4 linked regions of the Homo sapiens genome follow. The protein of the gene in region 3 purifies or fractionates together with the protein of the main gene of each other region. This does not show direct contact. Each region holds a gene or a part of one and is shown on either strand. Other genes may lie near its edges.

Region 1 (3,824 bases), on a different chromosome or scaffold from region 3:
AGTCTTCAGAAGGTTTTTAAAATTCTTTGTATAAATTCTTGAGAAATGATATCTTCATGTTTTTTAAGGCTCAAAATGGAAAATCATAAATCCAATAATAAGGAAAACATAACAATTGTTGATATATCCAGAAAAATTAACCAGCTTCCAGAAGCAGAAAGGTAAGATCCCTTCTTAATTTAAAAACACCTTTTATCAGGTGGATTTTCACCATTGATTCATTATCTCAAGTTTATCTGGTTTGAGTATAAACAACATGGAATGTGAGAAGGAAATTGCCCTTTTCTTGCCTGGATGAGAGCGTTTAACCATTTTGCTCAACATCACATAGCTAATTGTGGAAGGTGAGGCTGGAACTCATGTCTTTGGACATACCTAATTGTATAATGTTTTGAGTTTTTCCATTAGGCTTGGAGTATAGTAAAATGTAAACATTTACAGACCCATTTAAATAACAAAACTTTAACTTTTAAAATGTCTTTTTTTTCCCAGTTCATTCTGTCAGTATGCTTACCAGTCTAAGAGTACCATAGAACACACATAGCAAGATAGAGAATGTCAGAGAAATAGGATCATGGCTAAAGATCTTTAAGATATTATTAAAGAGGGCCAGGCATGGTGGCTCACGCCAGTAATCCCAGCACTTTGGGAGGCCAGGGTGGGCAGATCACCTGAGGTCAGGAGTTCAGACCAGCCTGGCCAACATGGTGAAACCTCATCTCTACTAAAAGTACAAAAATTAGCTGGGCGTGGTGGCAGGTGCCTGTAATCCCAGCTACTTGGGAGGCTGAGGCAGGAGAATTGCTTGAACCAGGGAGGCGGAGGTTGCAGTGAGCCGAGATCACACCACTACACCCCAGCCTGGGCGACAAGAGTGAGGATCCGTCTCAAAAAAAAAAAAAAAAAAAAAAGATATTAAAGAGAAAAACCAATATAGGGAACATACTAATCTTTGCCAGGCAGCTAATGTGTACTTCCACAAAATGTCTTACACTTTGTTGACAGTCAAGAAGGTCTCTCTGACTATAAAAGGATGAAAAGCAGCCACCTGGGAAGGAGAGAGGGACAGTGTCTTAAGTAGAGGGAATGGCATATGCCTAGCCACAAGATAGCCAAGGCTTGTGGTACTTGAGTAACCATTGTTACCGAAGTACTAAGGAAGTGGGAGTAAGGACCAGGAATAGTTTTGAGCAGGGGGATGATGTTAGCATTTCTAAAGAACATTCCAGCTGCTTTTTGGAAAGCAGATTTGAGGTAGGAAAGAAAGGAAACACAAATACCAGTAGAAAAAATGGCACAGTAATCCTGGTGAGTGGAGATGGTAGGGGTGGTGACAGCTGAGATGAAAAGAGGATGCATTTAAAATACATTCTGGAAGCATAATCTTGCTATCTTCAGGAATAGAAACTGAACAAATCCCCATCTTGCTGCCACTTACCATCTTAATCAGGGAGAACCCATAAATCAAGACCAGTAGTGTTCAGAACAAGGATCTCCAAGGGGAAGAAAAAAAAGGCCAGTAGTAAGAACTTGGTGAGATCTTAAAAGCTCTTTCACCCCCCCTCCCCACACTCCAACTCCACTCCCTTCTAGTTGTTTTCCTGAGGTAACGGAAAACCTTTTAAAGCAAAAAAGGAACTATGTCCATGTTTCCAGGCCAGCAAGATAGGGAAAGTGAGAAAGACTAATAAAAGAGTAGTAGGCTGGGCATGGTGGCTCACACCTGTAATCCCAGCACTTTGGGAGGCGGAGGCGGGCTGGTCACCTGAGGTCAGGAGTTTAAGACTAGCCTGGCCAACATGGCGAAACCCTATCTCTACTAAAAATACAAAAATTAGCCAGATGTGGGGGCACGTGCCTGTAGTCCTACCCACTGGAGAAGCTGAGGCACGAGAATTGTTTGAACCTGGGAGGCGGATGTTGCATGGAGCTGAGATCATGCCACTGCACTCCAGCCTGGGCGACAGAGCAAGACTGTCTCAAAAAAGAGTAGATGGTGGCAGCTTTGAAGAGAAGAAAGCAGTCTGTCACTGGGTTCTTTACCAAATTAGAAAGAATACCTGGAACTGCAAAGTAAAATTTAGTTTAGAGGCAATAAATGTTTCAATCATTGGCATCTAAACTAGGCAGATTACAGTGTCCTGTTATCTTTGCCTTGTTCCTATTTTTTCTCTTCATTCCCATTTTATTTTCTAAGTTTAAATCTTCATTTCTTCTTGGATTATTAATCAGGTATTTAATGGTTACTTGGCATGTCCTTCAGTGTATGGAGCTTTCTTAATATCAAAAACTTCATTTTCTGATCTACAGCAATACTTTCACGTACATGTTTGTCATTTGTTAAATTTGGGCTATTTCATGTCTATTTCTTGTGTATGTCTTATCAAAAAGTCATGAGTTTTTAGTTGGTATAGGTACTTTTTTGGAAAACTGGCAAGGGGCTGCTAGGTAACAATTTTGTGCTAACTTTTAATTAACTAAACATTTTGACCTTAGCTATGGGAAAAATCTGGTTGGGAGAGAGCAAAGTTTGCTATGCAGATTTCACTTGTACTACTTTTTATTTATTTGTATATGTAACATACTTGTAAACAAATGGACTTATATATAACATGTATATATGTATTTTATATATATTATATATACATACAGGCAAATTGTTTACCTGAGCATTGGGATTTAAAATGGGGATAATATACATTTCACATGATTTTTATGATGAAATATTTTAGAGGAAGTGTTCAAGTTTTTTATTCCAACCCCCACAAAAAAAAAATAGGCTTTTCACATTTACATGGTTTTTGTGGTTGGTAGGTTCTCCAGACTGTCATCACTAATTATAATCTATGTACTCCAAGTTCCTGAACTGCCACTGTCTTGTACCACCATTACCATTTTCATAGACTTCTGTTATATCTCGTTTACATCTCTTTCTTCTCCAGTAATATTTAACTATGTTAACCTTGAAGATAGAAGGTAATTTTTTGTGCCTTTAGCACTAAGTCTGCTGCATACAGTGGGGTTCTCAATGAGTGACAGGCATCATGATTGCAAAGTGTCAGATAAGAAAAGCAATACCTTATACAACGTAGGAAGCTGAGTTCCTAGAAAAGCTATTTTAAGATGAGTGTAAGCCATAGAAGTTAGAGGAGGTACTCTGTGGCTACTTTGGCTAGTTAAGAGTAATGAAAATCTTAAGACTGTATTGTAGATGGCAATGTAAGTGGTAAAAAAGCTAAGTCGTAGTCTGAAAAGTTTGGAGTCAGTATTTTCAATATTCAGCAATCATGTTAGGTATTACTTTTTCCCAAAACTAAAGAATGCATAGGACATAAGTTAAAAGTTCATACATAACCTGGCTTCAAATCCAGTTCTACCACTACCTGAAAACATCAGTTTATTTCTCATCAATGGGTTGTTATAAAGTACCTAGCATAGGGTATTGCTTAAATGTTAATACTCCCAATCCTGACACTAATGTTTCAGGGAAGAGTGAAAGAAATCACATTAACTCCACATTATTGAACATCTTCTGTGTCAGGCTGAATACATCTTTGTATCCATTGTCTTCTGGTTGTTTAAAGACTAGTGTAGAAGCCTGACATGTAAATCGGTGATTATATAAGATAGTACTGTCTTGTAATGTGTTGTGCTAGAGAGGTTAAGTATTAATTATTATGGGAGCTCAGGAGAGGCACCCACTGGCTGCTGGGAGAAGAGCAAAAACCTATATATAAAGCAATTTTTAAGATTTTGGTTCTATAAGGGATAGATGTCGTATCCAGTTAGTGTATTCCCAAAGTCCTATAACACATGTCAAGATC
Region 2 (4,286 bases), on a different chromosome or scaffold from region 3:
GTCAAGAATAATAATATTTCTCACAATATAAAATTTATATAAAATTCAAATTTCAGTGCCAATGTATAATGTTTCATTGGAATAAAATGAAAGTTACCTTTTTTTTTAAGATAGGGTCTTGGCCAGGCACAGTGGCTCACATCTGTAATCCCAGCACTGTGGGGGACTGAAGCGGGTGGACCCACCTGAGGTCAGGAGTTCGAAGCCAGCCTGGCCAACATGGTGCGACCCTGTCTATACTAAAAATACAAAAATTAGCTGGGCATGGTGGCGGGCACCCGTAGTCCCAGCTACTCGGGAGGCTGAGGCAGGAGAATTGCTTGAACCCGGGAGGCGGAGGTTACAGTGAGCCGACACAGCACCACTGCACTCCAGCCTGGGCGACAGAGCATGACTCTGTCTCAGAAAAAAAAAGGGGGTCTTGCTTTATTGCCCAAGCTGTTCTCACACTCTTGGCCTCAAGCATCCTTCTGCCTTGGTCTCCCAAAGTGCTGGGGTTATAGGCAGGAACCACTGCATCTAGCCAGCCTTTCGTTTATTATTGGAATACTGCCATGTTCATTTATTCATGTTATGAGCTTGGCTGCTTTCACACTAAAACGGTAGAGCTGACTACCTGAGACAAACACCACCTGATCTGCAAAGCCTAAAATATTTACTACCTGATCCTTTACAAAAAAAAAAAATATATATTGCCTACTCCTGCCCTAAGCTAATATTCCAGTTTTTCACAAATCGAAACAAAACTTGTCCTGCTAAGCAGATGCTCAGGGAGATACAAGGTCCTATTCTTAATCTAAGAGACTGCCACTGCTCTGAACATGGCTGGAATTCCTTTTGTGAAAGTGAGTTCACTGATGAGGCAGGGAAGCTAAACCTAGAGGCACTAGGCCAGGTGTTAGCATTGGAAGGAAGCCCAGTATCAAAACATGCAGAATCTCAGTGTGTGAAAAACAGCTCTGTGTTCTAATTATGCCCTCTCCAGTATTGCCACATAGGCGATTTGGACAAGACATTTATAAACCATTTTTTGAAGCAAGATAATTCAAGTTATTTTCCAAGTAAGAAAAATCTAATGCATACATCACACTAAAAAAGCAATTCATTACATTATTTCACTGTTGACAATAAGTAACCCAGGTTGATCCTACCAGACTGATTTCCAAATGATATCAAATCTATGCTCAAAGAATAAAATTTTGCCTTTAATTGATAGTATATAAAAGTGCCAGTGTTCTGACAGAAACACCAAATTATACGTACCAAAAACATTTGGAGAAATTAGCAATATGGTTCAACTAGGGATACAAGCTCTTAGATAAATTTATATATATACTTAACTAGCAGTATGGCTATACATACATATATGTGGCTATACATATATACATATATATACATAATTAGCAGTATGGCTTAACTAGGGATACAAGCTCTTAGATATATTTTATATATACTTAAGTATAGAAATTATGATGCACAAGTTTAAACGTCAGTAATATTTTACTAGAGCCAACAATGTGCCATCTTTTAGTACTCAACAGAAACTCAATATTGTTAATAAAAATAACAGCCCCAAAATAACCAGCTAAATTGACTTCTTTGAAGAATGGACCAATGAACTGGGAGTACTAATGTTTTGGGTGACAGAGGGGTTAAGAATAACAGAAAAGGCCAGGCATGGTGGCTCACACCTGTGATCCCAGCACTTTGGGAGGCCAAGGCAGGAGGATCGCTTGAGCCCAGGAGATCCAGACCAGGACAACATAGTGAGACCCTGTTTCTACAAAAAATTAAAAAATCAGCCAGGTGTTGTGGTGCACGGCTGTAGTCACAGCTACTCGGGAGGCTGAAGTGTGAGGATCGCTTGAGCCAAGAGTTTGGGGTTGCAGTGAGCTATGATTGCACCACTGCACTCCAGTATGAGTGACAGAGTGAGACCCAGTCTCTAAAAAAAAAAAAATGTGTAAAGAAAAGAATAACAAAAACCACAAGGAGTAATAATCACCAACTATCACAGAGCCAACCAAGGAACAAAGAAACATTATCTCATTTTGATTAACAGAAAGTTAATCTAACAATGAATAGCCTTGTTCTGTGAACTCAAATTTGCTTACTACATTTGTTTCACCTGTAAACTGTCTAAGGAAGGTAAATGACAAGGAACAGCACTTTGCACACAGGCTCTTCCCTTGGAGTGGCCAGCACATACTCCCTTTCAGGTGTATTCAGTGACAGTAGGTGAAGGTTTCCCTGATCACCTGATTCCAACTGCAAATCAACCTTCTTCTCCCTACTTCTCTCTCTTCCTCCCCTTTCTCCACCCCTTCTCTGCTTAAACTTTCCCCATAGTTTCTTCTACCATCTAACATGCTATCTATTTAATTTCTTTATTATTTATCATAACTGTCTTCCTCAAAAAATTAGCTCCATGAGCAGAGTTTTATTTTTGCCCATTTTGTTCACTACTGAATTCACATCCCTAAAGCACAGCACAGGCCCTATAAGAACAAGTTGAATGAATCAGTGAACAAAAGTGAACAGCTACCAGAAAACCCCAAAACTGGCTGACACTTCTTTCACAATTTCCCAAAAAAAAAATTTTTCTACTCAGATTATTCATTACAGCTTGTCTAAATCAACAAAAATTCTGAGTTAGGTAGTCTAAGAAACCACTAAAAAAAAGAACCTGGCCAGATGTGGTGGCTCACACCTGTAATCCTAGCACTCTGGGAGACTGAGGCAGGAGAATCGCTTGAACCCACGAGTTCAAGACCAGCCTGGGCAACACAGCGAAACCCCATCTCTACACAAAACACAAAAATTAGCTGGACGTGGTGGGACACGCCTGTAGTCTCAGCTATTCAAGAGGCTGAGGTGTGAGGATCACTTGAGCCCAGGGAGGTCAGGGCTGCAGTGAGCTGAGTTCATGCCACCACACTCCAGCCTGGGCAACAGAGTGAGACTCTGTCTCAAAAAAAGGGAAGCTTTCCAAAAGTAAAACTTAATTGTCCTTTATTTGTTCTGCTGACTGGTTCTATATCCCAGGTGGAGTGAAGATAACAAATAATTGGAAGGGTGGGTAGAAGATAAACATATCCTGAAGCAGATGATAACAGAACCACATTGTTCCCATTTGAGTATTTCAAAAGAATCTGCTGGTTACCTGAGCTATAGAGGCCTGGGGATTACCCAGCAAGTTTTTGAATGAACGCTTGGAAACCCATCTGAGTTGATGACAGAAGGAGGTGGTGTAGCTGATCTCCTTGAAGACTGTGATCTTCTTCTTCTTCTCACCCCCGGAAAGTTGATGTAATTCAGCTTTTGTCTCTTTGTAGAAGGAGGAGTTGACATAAATCTCCGCTAATTTTTCTATGAGTGGCTTATCCTGCTTGGAAGGCTCTATGATCTCTGTGGCTTTGCAATCAGTGGATAAAAAGGAAACACAAACAAGATAACAACAAATTTAGCCCATTTTTTCTGTGAACCCTTTCTTGGATGCTTCCCTAACACCTTCATTCTAAAGCTTTAGAAAGAAAAAATAGGCCAGGCACGGCGGCTCATGACTGTAATCTCAGCACTTTGGGAGGCTGAGGCGGGTGGATTACGAGGTCAGGAGTTCGAGACCAGCCTGACCAACATGGTGAAACCCTGTCTCTACTGAAAATACAAAAAAAATTAGCCTGGCGTGGTGGTGCGTGCCTGTAATCCCAGCCACTCAGGAGGCTGAGGCAAGAGAATCGCTTGAACCAGGGAGGTGGAGGTTGCAGTGAGCTGAGATCACACCACTGCACTCCAGCCTGTGCAAGAGAGCAAGACTCCATCTCAAAAAAGAAAAAATAGAAATAAAAAATTATTAGCTCTGTCATTAGAAAAGTATAACAGGCCAGGCACAGTGGCTCACTCCTGTAATCCCAGTATTTTGCAGGGCAGAGGCAGGAGGATCATGCGAGGCCAGGAATTCAAGACCAGCCTGAGCAACGAAACGAGACCCTGTCTCTATAAAAATAAATAAAGTAAGTAATAAATTAAAATGTATATTTAAAAAGAGAAAAAGAAAGAAAAAGAAAACTACAGAGAAATAGCCTGTCTATTGCCATAGTCTTATGAATATAGCAAACAAACTGACGTTTTCTATTTGACCTTAATTCTTTTAAAATAGACTTCTTACCATATAGTTCTAATTCTTAATATAAAATTCTGGTCGTGGCCAGGGGCGGTGGCTCACACCTGTAATCCCAACACTTTGGGAGGCCAAGGCGGGAGGATCACTTGAGGTCAGGAGTTTG
Region 3 (5,810 bases):
CTGCATAGCCTGCACTGTCTCCTCCAGGCTGCCCCTGGGGAATACCACGTAGTGTGTGGAGTTCAGCCCTGGCAGCTCCCGCTGGTTCTCCTTGCTATGCCGGATGCCATAGCCGAAATACACTGCAAGTCCTAGACAGGGCAGGAGGCAGGGCATGAGCCTGAGGTACAGGTTCCAGCCCTTCCTGTCCTCTTTGCCCTCCTCCTGACCCCGGTCCCAGCCTGGCCCCCACTCACCCATCAGCAGCCAGATGGAGAAGCGCACCCAGGTCAGATAGCTAAGTTTCAGCATGAGGCAGATGTTGAGGACGATGCTCAGGGCTGGAATCAGGGGAACCATGGGGATCTGAGGAGGCAGAGGCAGGGCAGGGCTGGGCCGGGCTGCAGGAAAGATCTGCCAGCCCAGGGCTCACTTTCTCGGGAATCCATAGAGCCTTTGTTCCTCACGGGAGATTGTGGAGACATGTGCTCACTCACCATGCAGAAAGGGGTGCGGGATGGGTGTGTGGTCCTCCCCAGCCCCGTGAGACTTGTTCATTCTGGGATGGTAGTGGGGGAAGGGGAGGCAGCTGCCTGGGCCGAGTGTGAGTGGGTGTTGGCTAGGGGAGGTACCTGAAATAAGTCTTCCCGATACTGTTGCTGGTGAGCCCCCAGGACAAGGAGGCTGAGCAGAAACATGACACTGGTGAGCAGGAGCAGCAGGATGTAACCCCAGTGTGGGAGGTGCAGGGTCGAGTTCCCAAAGACAAGCACGCAGCCTATGGTGATGGCTGAGGCCAACATAACGCCAAGCGCCCAAGTCACCACTGCTCCAGGGCTGTACCCATCCAAGAAGCCCAGGTAGGGCCTCAGGGCTGGCTTCAGCTCCCCTGGCTCAGGGACGGAGGCGTGTACAGTGCCCACCAGCTGTAGGTGGTCTGAGAAGGAGCTCTGCTGCTTGGTCAGGGGGCCAGGGCTGGCTGGGCCTGGGGAGCTGGGCGGGGAAGACTTCTGGAAGCGCAGCACAATGATACTGGTGGCCACGAATGTGTAGGCCAGGAGTGTGCCAAGGGACAGGAACTGAACCAGCGACTCCAGGTCCAGCAGCAGTGCCAGGAAGGCCGTGAGGAGCCCGAACGCCAGGGTGCCCGCCACAGGCACCTGTGTCCGGGGGTGCACATGGGCAAACACCTGGAAGAAGAGCCCATCGGCGGCCATGGCATAGACAATGCGTGGCAGGGAGAAGAGGAGGCTGAGCAGGACGGTGTTCATGGCTGTAGCAGAGAGAGTGGGGAGGGTCAGCATGGCGGAGAAGCCCACCAGGGGCCTCTGCTGGGGGTCGGTGCATGGGTGGCTCCTTGGGAACAAGGGCATGAGCTTGTCTGGGCTCTCAGAGTAAGCATGAGTTTGTGTAGGAGTAATAGATTGTCAGCGCTTTGCCCAAGAACAGGACATCTGGGTTAGGTCACAGGCCCACTGGAGCATCGGATGAGGGCTGAGTCCCTCTGCCTAGGAAATAATCTATAAGGACATGCCCAGAACTAATATGCTATGGACCATGTGTGGGGCGGTCCCTTCCAAAGTTTCTGAAGAAACTTTTTTTGAAGTGAAGAGTTTCTAATAATTAGCACTTTCCTTGCCCCATTATGCAACTAGTAAAACAGCCCCAGTTGAAGGTGCATTCCCCAAGAATCTGAGGACAAGGTCCCCCTTGCTCTTTTCCCTGCCACCCTGCCCAGGAAGAGTCTCTCACCGCAGATGGAGCCAGCTGCCACGATGAAGCCAGCCCACCTGTAGCCCCGCTGGTAGAAGGCATCTGCAAGCGCTGAGTCGGGGTCCAGGCTGTGCCAGGGCACCATGAGGGTTAGCACGGTGGAGACAAGGATGTAGGCACCAGCTGCAATGGCAAGCGAGATGGCGATGGCCAGAGGCACAGACCGCCGTGGGTTCTGGGCCTCCTCACTGGAGGCGGCAATGACGTCGAAGCCCACGAAAGCATAGAAGCAGGAGGCAGTGCCGGCCATGACGCCGGAGAAGCCGAAGGGTGCAAAGCCGCCTTCGTCAGCGCTCCAGTTGTGAGGCTGGGCCAGGATGAAGCCCAGGATGACAATGAAGAGAATGACAAGCAGGCTGATGGCCGAGAAGGTGTGATTGAGCCAGGAGGACACGCGGGCTCCACAGGAGACAAAGGCAGAGGCCAGGAGGATGATGCCAGCAGCCAGGAAGTCCGGGTAGTGGCCCAGGAGGGGCACCTGCCAAGAACCCACGTGGGTCTCAGTGAAGTTGCGGATGCTGTGGCTGAACATAGAGTCCAGGTAGCCACTCCAGGCACGGGCCACGGCGGCGCCACCGATGATGTATTCGAGGAGAACATTCCAGCCGATGAGGAAGGCCCACAGCTCGCCCATGGATACGTAGGTGAACAGGTAGGCAGAGCCCGTGCGTGGCACACGTGCCCCAAATTCTGCATAGCATAGGGCTGCCAGCAGGGAGGCCACAGCGGCCACACCGAAGGACAAGAGCACAGCAGGGCCAGCCACCTCCTTGGCCACGGCACCTGTGAGCACGTAGAGACCCGAGCCCACCATGCCACCCACGCCCAGAAGAGTCAGGTCCAGCGTGGACAGGCAGCGCCGCAGTGACGTCTCCATGGTGGAGTCCTCCAGCGGCTTCAGGCGGTTCAGCTTCTGGCATAAGCGTGCCAGGCTAGCAATGGTGGGCAGCCCCCGGGCCATGGCAGGTGGCCGAGAAGAGCACCGAGCCAGCTACTGGAACCTGCTAGGGCCAGAGGGGAATGACAGGATGCGTAGCCGGGGCCTGACCAGCCTTCCATCCCTCCTGGTCTGACCACCCCCAGTCCTCTCTCTGTCCCTGACCTGGGGACCTGGACACCCTCACCAGGGGCCTGCTGGAGAGCTGGAATGGGGCAGGTGTCAGAACCTGTGGGCAGGAGGTCACAGGAAGCCTGGAGGCCCTGTCTGCATCCCAGGCAGCAAAGGAGGCCTGGTGAGGCCCCACCTGCTCACCCGCTCGGTGGCCCTGAGGGGTGGGGAGGGAGCAGCTCCAGGGGGAGCAGGGTGAGAGGCTGGGAACGGCTCAGTGGTGGGGTCCCAGAGCCAGGTGAAACCGAGGCTTCCCCAGAGTCGAGCCGGACCCGGAACAGGAGCCGCGGCTCTGCGTCGGGGCGGGTGTGGCCCAGGCAGCCACCTGGCCACAGACAGACAGTGGCGGCTACATACACCCCCGCCCCTGCACCCGTGGCCAGGCTGGGGTATCCGCGCGCCAGGCGGAATGCAGGGGCGCCCTGGGCCCGCACACCTCCCCATGTCCGACACGCCGCTGCTGCTAGAGCCTGCTCCGCCGCGCCCCCGTCCCCGGACACCTGCGCCTTCGCCTGTTCTTGGGCCTGAGCCCGTCCCAGTCCCCGTCCCCGCAGGATCTGCTGCAACCCACCTGCTGCTGCCGCAGCCGCTGCCTCCGCTCTGAGCACTGAGCCCGCCCAGTTCGCCGGCGCCGAGCGCAGGGCCCGCCCCCATCCCAGGCCCCCCGCGCGGCCCCACCCGCTGCCACACACCCAGATATTTCACCCTGCCCACTCTGCCCGACCTCGCAAGGTCGTTACCGGAGCTCACCGGGGTCTAGGGAAGCCCTGTGACTGTGACTCAGTCACAGATGGAGAAGGTCAGACCGCCGGCTGACTGACTAGCCTAGGTCAGTTCGGGGAGGTTAAGGGCCACGTCTGAAAGTCCGCAGCCCACCTTCTTTCTACTGCAGCGGACACCCTTCTTGATCCCTCACCCCAGTACATGAACCCCACCCAGCTGGGCCCCAGACAGGCCCCACAGCACCGTCATGTGAGCTTCAGGCACAGTGAGTTAGATGAAGACATGGGTCTGGCAGAGTGGCCTGGGGCGGTCCCTGACCTCTACTCTTACAATGGAAGAGACTGCAGCCTTTTGAGAGAGTTCTGCGAATTGAGGGAATGCATTCTGGCTGTTTTGAGCCTGCAGCTACCACGTCCTGCAAGGAAGCAAGCAGCTTCTGGGACCAGCCTGCAGCCCTCCTGTGGGGGAGTAGAGCTCCTCAGACCCCAGTGGCAGCCCTTCCTAGCCTAGGCACCTCTGGCAGGCCGGGAGGGCCCTATGGGACCCCAATAGCAGATCCCCACTTGTGTTTATCAGCGACAGCCACTGTGTCCTGAGTACTGCATTCCAGTGCCCCACGCCCCAGGCAGGCAGCTATGCAACAATACACCTGGCTAATTTTTTAATTTTAATTTTTTTAGAGACTGGGTCTCACTATGCTGCCCGGGCTGGTCTCGAACTCTTGGCCTCCCAAAAGGCTGTGATTACATTCATGAACCATGGCTCCTGGCCTCCCCAGAACGCTATACTAGACATGTGTTCAGGCTTACATGTGGTTTGTGGAATGGAATCTTAGGAGCATCTGCAGCCTATCCAGCCTATTGGGCTGGTGACAGGATGATGGACTCCCAGACAAGATGGTGCCAATTTGGAACATTCTGCCTCGGCCAGAATGCCAATACCTTCTAATATTTGGCTGGTATTGTCTTGAGGAACTTCTCAGATGGCTCCCACTTCCGGTGGGATGGTAGCTTCCTTACCCCATCCCTGTGTTGCCTGAGCAGACGTCCCTTGTCCTGAAATGTCACCACAAAAGTCTAGGCACTTCAGGCCAGAGGGTTAGGCAGATTTGTAATGGGAGCTCCCCAAAGGCCTTACCAATGACTGCCTTATTGCTGGTGTCCAGTGTTTTGGAGTGTTGACTTTTTATCTACCTGGAGAAGGTGTGACACCACACCCTCTGCCACAGGCACCAACATACAACGGATATGTGAGACTAAGCAGGGCTGATGCAGTAAATTGTACATTTCCAGAGATATTTCCCTCACTACTGAGTGAGACAGCTACACAGAGCAACCCCACAGTGATGCAGTGAAGACAAACCACCAGGAAACAAAAACTTTCTAACTCATTCTGCAAGGCCAGGATTACCCTGACACTAAACTCAACAAAGACATCACAAGAAAAGAAAACCACAGACCAAAATCCCTTATGAATATAGATGTAGAAATCCCCAGCAAAACACAGTGGACTCTTGAACAACACAGGTTTACTAATACATAGATATTTTTCAACCAAATGTCGATCAAAAATACAGTATTTGGCTAGGCCCAGTGGCTCACACCGGTAATCCCATCACTTTGGGAGGCTGAGGTGAGAGGATCACTTGAACCCAGGAGTCTGAGGCTGCAGTGAGCTATGATCCTGTCACTGCACTTCAGCCTAGGTGGCAAAGCAAGACCCTGTCTCCAAAACTACTAAATAAATAAATTAAAATAAGTGGTGGGTGCCTGTAATCGCAGCTACTTGGGAGGCTGAGGCAGGAGAATCGCTTGAACCCGGGAGGCAGAGGTTGCAATGAGCTGAGATGGCGCCATTGCACTCCAGCGTGGGTGACAGAGCAAGACTCTGTCTCAAAAAAAAATAAAAAACAAAAAACAAAAAATTCATATGGAAATGCAAGGGATCCAGAATAGCCAAAATACTTGGGTATTTTGCCTGGGTAACATAGGGAGACCTCACCTCTACGGAAAGGTAAAAAAATTATATGGGCATGGTGGCATGTGCCTGTGGTCTCAGCTACTGGGAGTCGGGGGTGGTGTTGAGGTGGAAGGATTTCTTGAGCCTGGGAGGTTGAGGTTGCAGTGAGGCATGTTTGTGCCACTGCACTCCAGCTTGGGTGATAGTCAGACCCTGTCTCAAAAAAAAAAGAAAAAAGTAAAGAAAGAAATTAAAGGCAACATAAATA
Region 4 (4,286 bases), on a different chromosome or scaffold from region 3:
GGTGTAGGCTGCTACTACAGAGTTATGAAGACTTTAGGGTTGCTCAACAATTTAATCTTAAGTATTATTTCTTGTTACTAGCTATTTTATCACAAATAGAATGAAACTGATTAGAGGAAAAATCAGTACAAGCTCTCATAGCACATGTACAATACAACTAGAAGGAGAAAATTATGCCTCATTTTATAGTCAGTTATACAGCATAGGCAATAATAGTACCTCAAATCCAAGTTCTATACTGGTTTGTACTGGATAATCTTTATTTATATGTTTTTATTCTGGGTATGTTATTAGTAATATTAACATAGTTCATGTGTGTCATGGACATGGTTACAAAAATTCCCTGGACCTTCTATCTTTGCTACAAGAGAATCTCACCACGTAAATCTATCAGATGCCGTGTTGTTCCTACATAATGGGCAAGAGTAGAAAAATCAGAAAAAGGATGGACTGTCTTCCAAAGACTGGAAGATGATAACGAAAGTGTAGAGGAAAGAGGCCGGGCACAGTGGCTCACGCCTGTAATCCCAGCACTTCAGGAGGTCGAGGTGGGCAGATCACGAGGTCAGGAGATCGAGACCATCCTGGCTAACATGGTGAAATACTGTCTCTACTGAAAACATAAAAAATTAGCTGGGCGTGGTGGCGGGTGCCTGTAGTCCCAGCTAGTTGGGAGGCTGAGGCAGGAGAATGGCGTAAACCCGGGAGGCAGAGCTTGAAAAAAAAAAGAAAGTGTAGAGAAAAGACAAATGCTAACATTAAAATTTTCTCCATGGATGAAAGATCTACCACCTACAATATATTTAATTTTAAAAAGCCATATTTAAGTAGGATGACCTGCAATGCAACTAACCTTGATGTAGTAATCCTTTTAACTCAACTGGATGAGTTTCAATGGCTTAAAGGTTATCTATGTATTTTATAGTGATTTTTCAATAGATGGAAAGGCAGATAGGCACTGGTTCCTATTTTTTTTTTTCATACATTAACCCATTCACTCGCCTAACCAATATTTACCATGTGTCTACTTTGTGCCACACACTCTTGCTAAATGCTAGGGATATGATGATGAGTAGTATTTACTCTGCTTTTCTGCTGAGTTTTAGGGACCACTGCTGTTTTGGAATATCACTTCTGTAACTCCCTTACAAATACCTCAGCTAGTAAGTTTATCTCTTGACAACTAATTTCTGTTCTTACCTCAGCCTTAACTGGCAGATGCACAGCAATCAGCATATGTTTGATTCAATAACCAATCCATTATGGTGAAAGCAACACAGGATATATATCATAGACTATTTTTTCACCAAAAAAATTAAATATTTGATTTCAGTGTACCCAAGATGTCTTACCTCAGGCAAATCACAGCTTCAAGTTTTTGATAACGGATAGGAGAATCACACCAAGACCACTTCGAAGAAGGCTGGTTTCTGCTACACTAACAAATGTAAGATTGGTTTATTTTATTTTTATAGAGATAAGGTCTTGCTGTGTTTCCCAGGCTGGTCTCAAACTCCTGGGCTCAAGTGATCTCCCCGCTTCAGCCTCCCAAAGTGCTGGGATTACAGGTGTAAGCCACCATGCCCAGCCAATACTGGTTTACTTTAAATCACAATGGATGAAAGAGAACCAGTAGCTAAAGGCATTGGTGGCTCCTGTGCAACATACAACCATTCATTTTCATTGTGTATTCATAAGTAGTGAATACACAAATGGCACGGGAGTAAAATAATGATGAAATAGGTATAAGAAATATAAAAATGACCATTCTATCTGTCTTGGGTTATATAGTATACTATACTCCTCTCCTGCAATACACAATTAATGTCACTGATCTATATGAGAAATACTTCACAAGAACTTGAGATATGGGGTATTTTACTCAAATACTTTACAATATAGCCTAAGAAAGAGAATCAAAGACTCCTGTATGGAATATGTCAAAGAGTATCATAATATAAGCACACTGTAGAAGTATGATGAAATACATCACATACTTTTTGTTGTGGTGGTTGTTGTTGAACATGCCCCAACTGTTGCATGAGATCACATACTTTTGTTACCTCCACAAAGTCCTTCTGTCTATATCCCTCTTATAAAAACACAGACTTGGTTTGGTGGCATATAAATAATGATACTTCAAATTTGAAGGGCAAGGTATTTTGAATTGTCTGAAAAATTTTCAATTTGATTATGATAAAATTTTATGAAAAATAAATAAGAAGCTAAAAATTTCCATCATTTGTGATAAAAAGAGAACAAATTCATTTTATGGTAAAGCCGCAGCGTAAAATGTTGGGGAGGGAGCAATGCCTTCCTGAAAAGAATCAGGGTATGTTGGTTGATTGATGCCAATCTGAATCAACACCAAAAATGATTAAGAAAGACCTAAAATTCACTTATTTTGACCAATACTTAATATATTTATAGAGATGAAATGGATTTCAAAGTTATGCCATTTTATCCACAACTCAATTGTTTAATATTAGATTTGATATGATCTTGTGGATACACTGGGATAAGATAAAAATGTGAAGCTCTGGCCAGGCGTGGTGGCTCAGGCCTGTAATCCCAGCACTTTGGGAGGCTGAGGCGGGCGGATCACGAGGTCAGGAGATCGAGACCATCCTGGCTAACACGGTGAAACCCTGTCTCTACTAAAAATACAAAAAATTAGCCAGGCGAGGTGGCGGGCGCCTGTAGGCCCAGCTACTCTGGAGGCTGAGGCAGGAGAATGGCATGAACCCCGGGGGGCGGAGCCTGCAGTGAGCCGAGATCGCGCCACTGCACTCCAGCCTGGGCGACAGCGAGACTCTGCCTCAAAAAAAAACAAAAAAAAAAAAAAAGAGAGAAGCTCCATAGTACAGTTACCAAATTTCTGGGTGTGGCTTGGTATCATCAATCCAATGATAATATTCCAGACTAGGGATAATCCTAATTTCCAGGATGAGATTATGACAACTTCAAAGTTTAATTCTGTTTGAACTAGATTTCAAATTATATTAAATTTTGATTAAAAAAGAAAACACGGCCGGGCATGGTGGCTCATGCCTGTAATCCCAGCACTTTAGGAGGCCGAGGCAGGAGGATCACTTGGGCTCAGCAGCTCGAGACCAGGCTGGGCAACGTGGCAAAACCCTGTCTCTACAAACAATACAAAAATTAGCCGGGCATGGTGGTGCACATCTGTAGTCCCAGATACTCGGAGGCTAAGGTGGGAGGATTGCCTGAGCCTGGGAGGCAGAGGTTGCAGTGAGCTGACATCATGCCACTGCACTCCAGCCTGGGTGACACAGTGAGACCCTGTCTCAAAAAAAAAATAAATAAATAAAAAGATTTTGTATTAAAAAACACACATAAATACATTATATTTAAAATAATGAATTATTATTCTTAAACTAAAAATAAAAAACAAAATAAACTAAGGGTTATACAATCCACAATGTACAGAGAAAACAATTCATATTTTAACCAAGACTAAAAAAATTACTTGTACTTTTAATTTATAAATATGTATGTTCATCTATATGAGTTTCATTTATTTATTATTTTTAAAATTTATTTTTGGCCGGGCACGGTGGCTGACGCCTGGAATCCCAGCACTTAGGGAGGCCAAGGCCAGTGGATCACCTAAGGTCAGGAGTTCAAGACCAGCCTGGCCAACATAGTGAAACCCTGTCTCTATTAAAAATACAAAAATTAGCTGGGCATGGTAGCACATGCCTGTAATCCCAGCTACTCTGGAGGGTGAGACAGGAGAATCGCTTGAACCCGGGAGGCAGAGGTTGCAGTGAGCCGAGATGGCACCACTACACTCTAGCCCAAGTGACAGAGCGAGACTCTGTCTCAAAAACAAACAAAAAAAGGCCAGGCACAGTGGCTCATGCCTCTAATACCAGCACTTTGGGAGGCCAAGGCAGGCAGATCACCAGAGGTCGGGAGTTCGAGATCAGCCTGGGTAACATGGTGAAACCCCATCTCTACTAAATATACAAAATTAGCTGGGCATGGTGGCATACACCTGTAACCCTGTTACTTGGGAGGCTGAGGCAAGAGAATTGCTTGAACCCAGGAGGCGGAGGTTGCAGTGAGCCAGGATTTCGCCACTGCACTCCAAGCCTGGGTGACAGAGTGAGACTCGGTCTCCAAAAAAAAAAAAAAAAAAATTTACTTTTATGTTTTTTTATTTTTATTTTTTGAGGCAGGGTCTTGCTCTGTCACCCAGGCTGGAGGGCAGTGGCGTGATCTTGGCTCACTGCAACTTTCCCTCCTGGGCTCAGGTGATC

What was found. Proteins that work in one complex are often made in the same cells at the same time.
Region 1: the proteins of SLC7A4 (region 3) and TMEM126A purify together in Homo sapiens (affinity purification with mass spectrometry; one large-scale study listed by BioGRID and IntAct). This does not show direct contact.
Region 2: the proteins of SLC7A4 (region 3) and ABCG2 purify together in Homo sapiens (affinity purification with mass spectrometry; one large-scale study listed by BioGRID and IntAct). This does not show direct contact.
Region 4: the proteins of SLC7A4 (region 3) and NT5C3A purify together in Homo sapiens (affinity purification with mass spectrometry; one large-scale study listed by BioGRID and IntAct). This does not show direct contact.

What each region holds. Positions count from the first base shown.
Region 1 is NC_000011.10:85,650,181-85,654,004, forward strand, and holds part of TMEM126A (transmembrane protein 126A), read left to right. Parts: intron 1-68; 5' UTR 69-75; coding exon 76-161; intron 162-3,824. UniProt on the Homo sapiens protein: Protein required for the cotranslational protein quality control in the inner membrane of the mitochondria.
Region 2 is NC_000004.12:88,110,140-88,114,425, forward strand, and holds part of ABCG2 (broad substrate specificity ATP-binding cassette transporter ABCG2), read right to left. Parts: intron 3,415-4,286; coding exon 3,164-3,414; intron 1-3,163.
Region 3 is NC_000022.11:21,029,100-21,034,909, forward strand, and holds the start of SLC7A4 (cationic amino acid transporter 4), read right to left. Parts: upstream 3,463-5,810; 5' UTR 3,432-3,462; exon of another isoform or gene 2,754-3,431; 5' UTR 2,714-2,753; coding exon 1,732-2,713; intron 1,253-1,731; coding exon 612-1,252; intron 346-611; coding exon 237-345; intron 132-236; coding exon 1-131. UniProt on the Homo sapiens protein: Involved in the transport of the cationic amino acids (arginine, lysine and ornithine).
Region 4 is NC_000007.14:33,028,277-33,032,562, forward strand, and holds part of NT5C3A (cytosolic 5'-nucleotidase 3A), read right to left. Parts: intron 1,439-4,286; exon of another isoform or gene 1,353-1,438; intron 1-1,352. UniProt on the Homo sapiens protein: Nucleotidase which shows specific activity towards cytidine monophosphate (CMP) and 7-methylguanosine monophosphate (m(7)GMP). CMP seems to be the preferred substrate.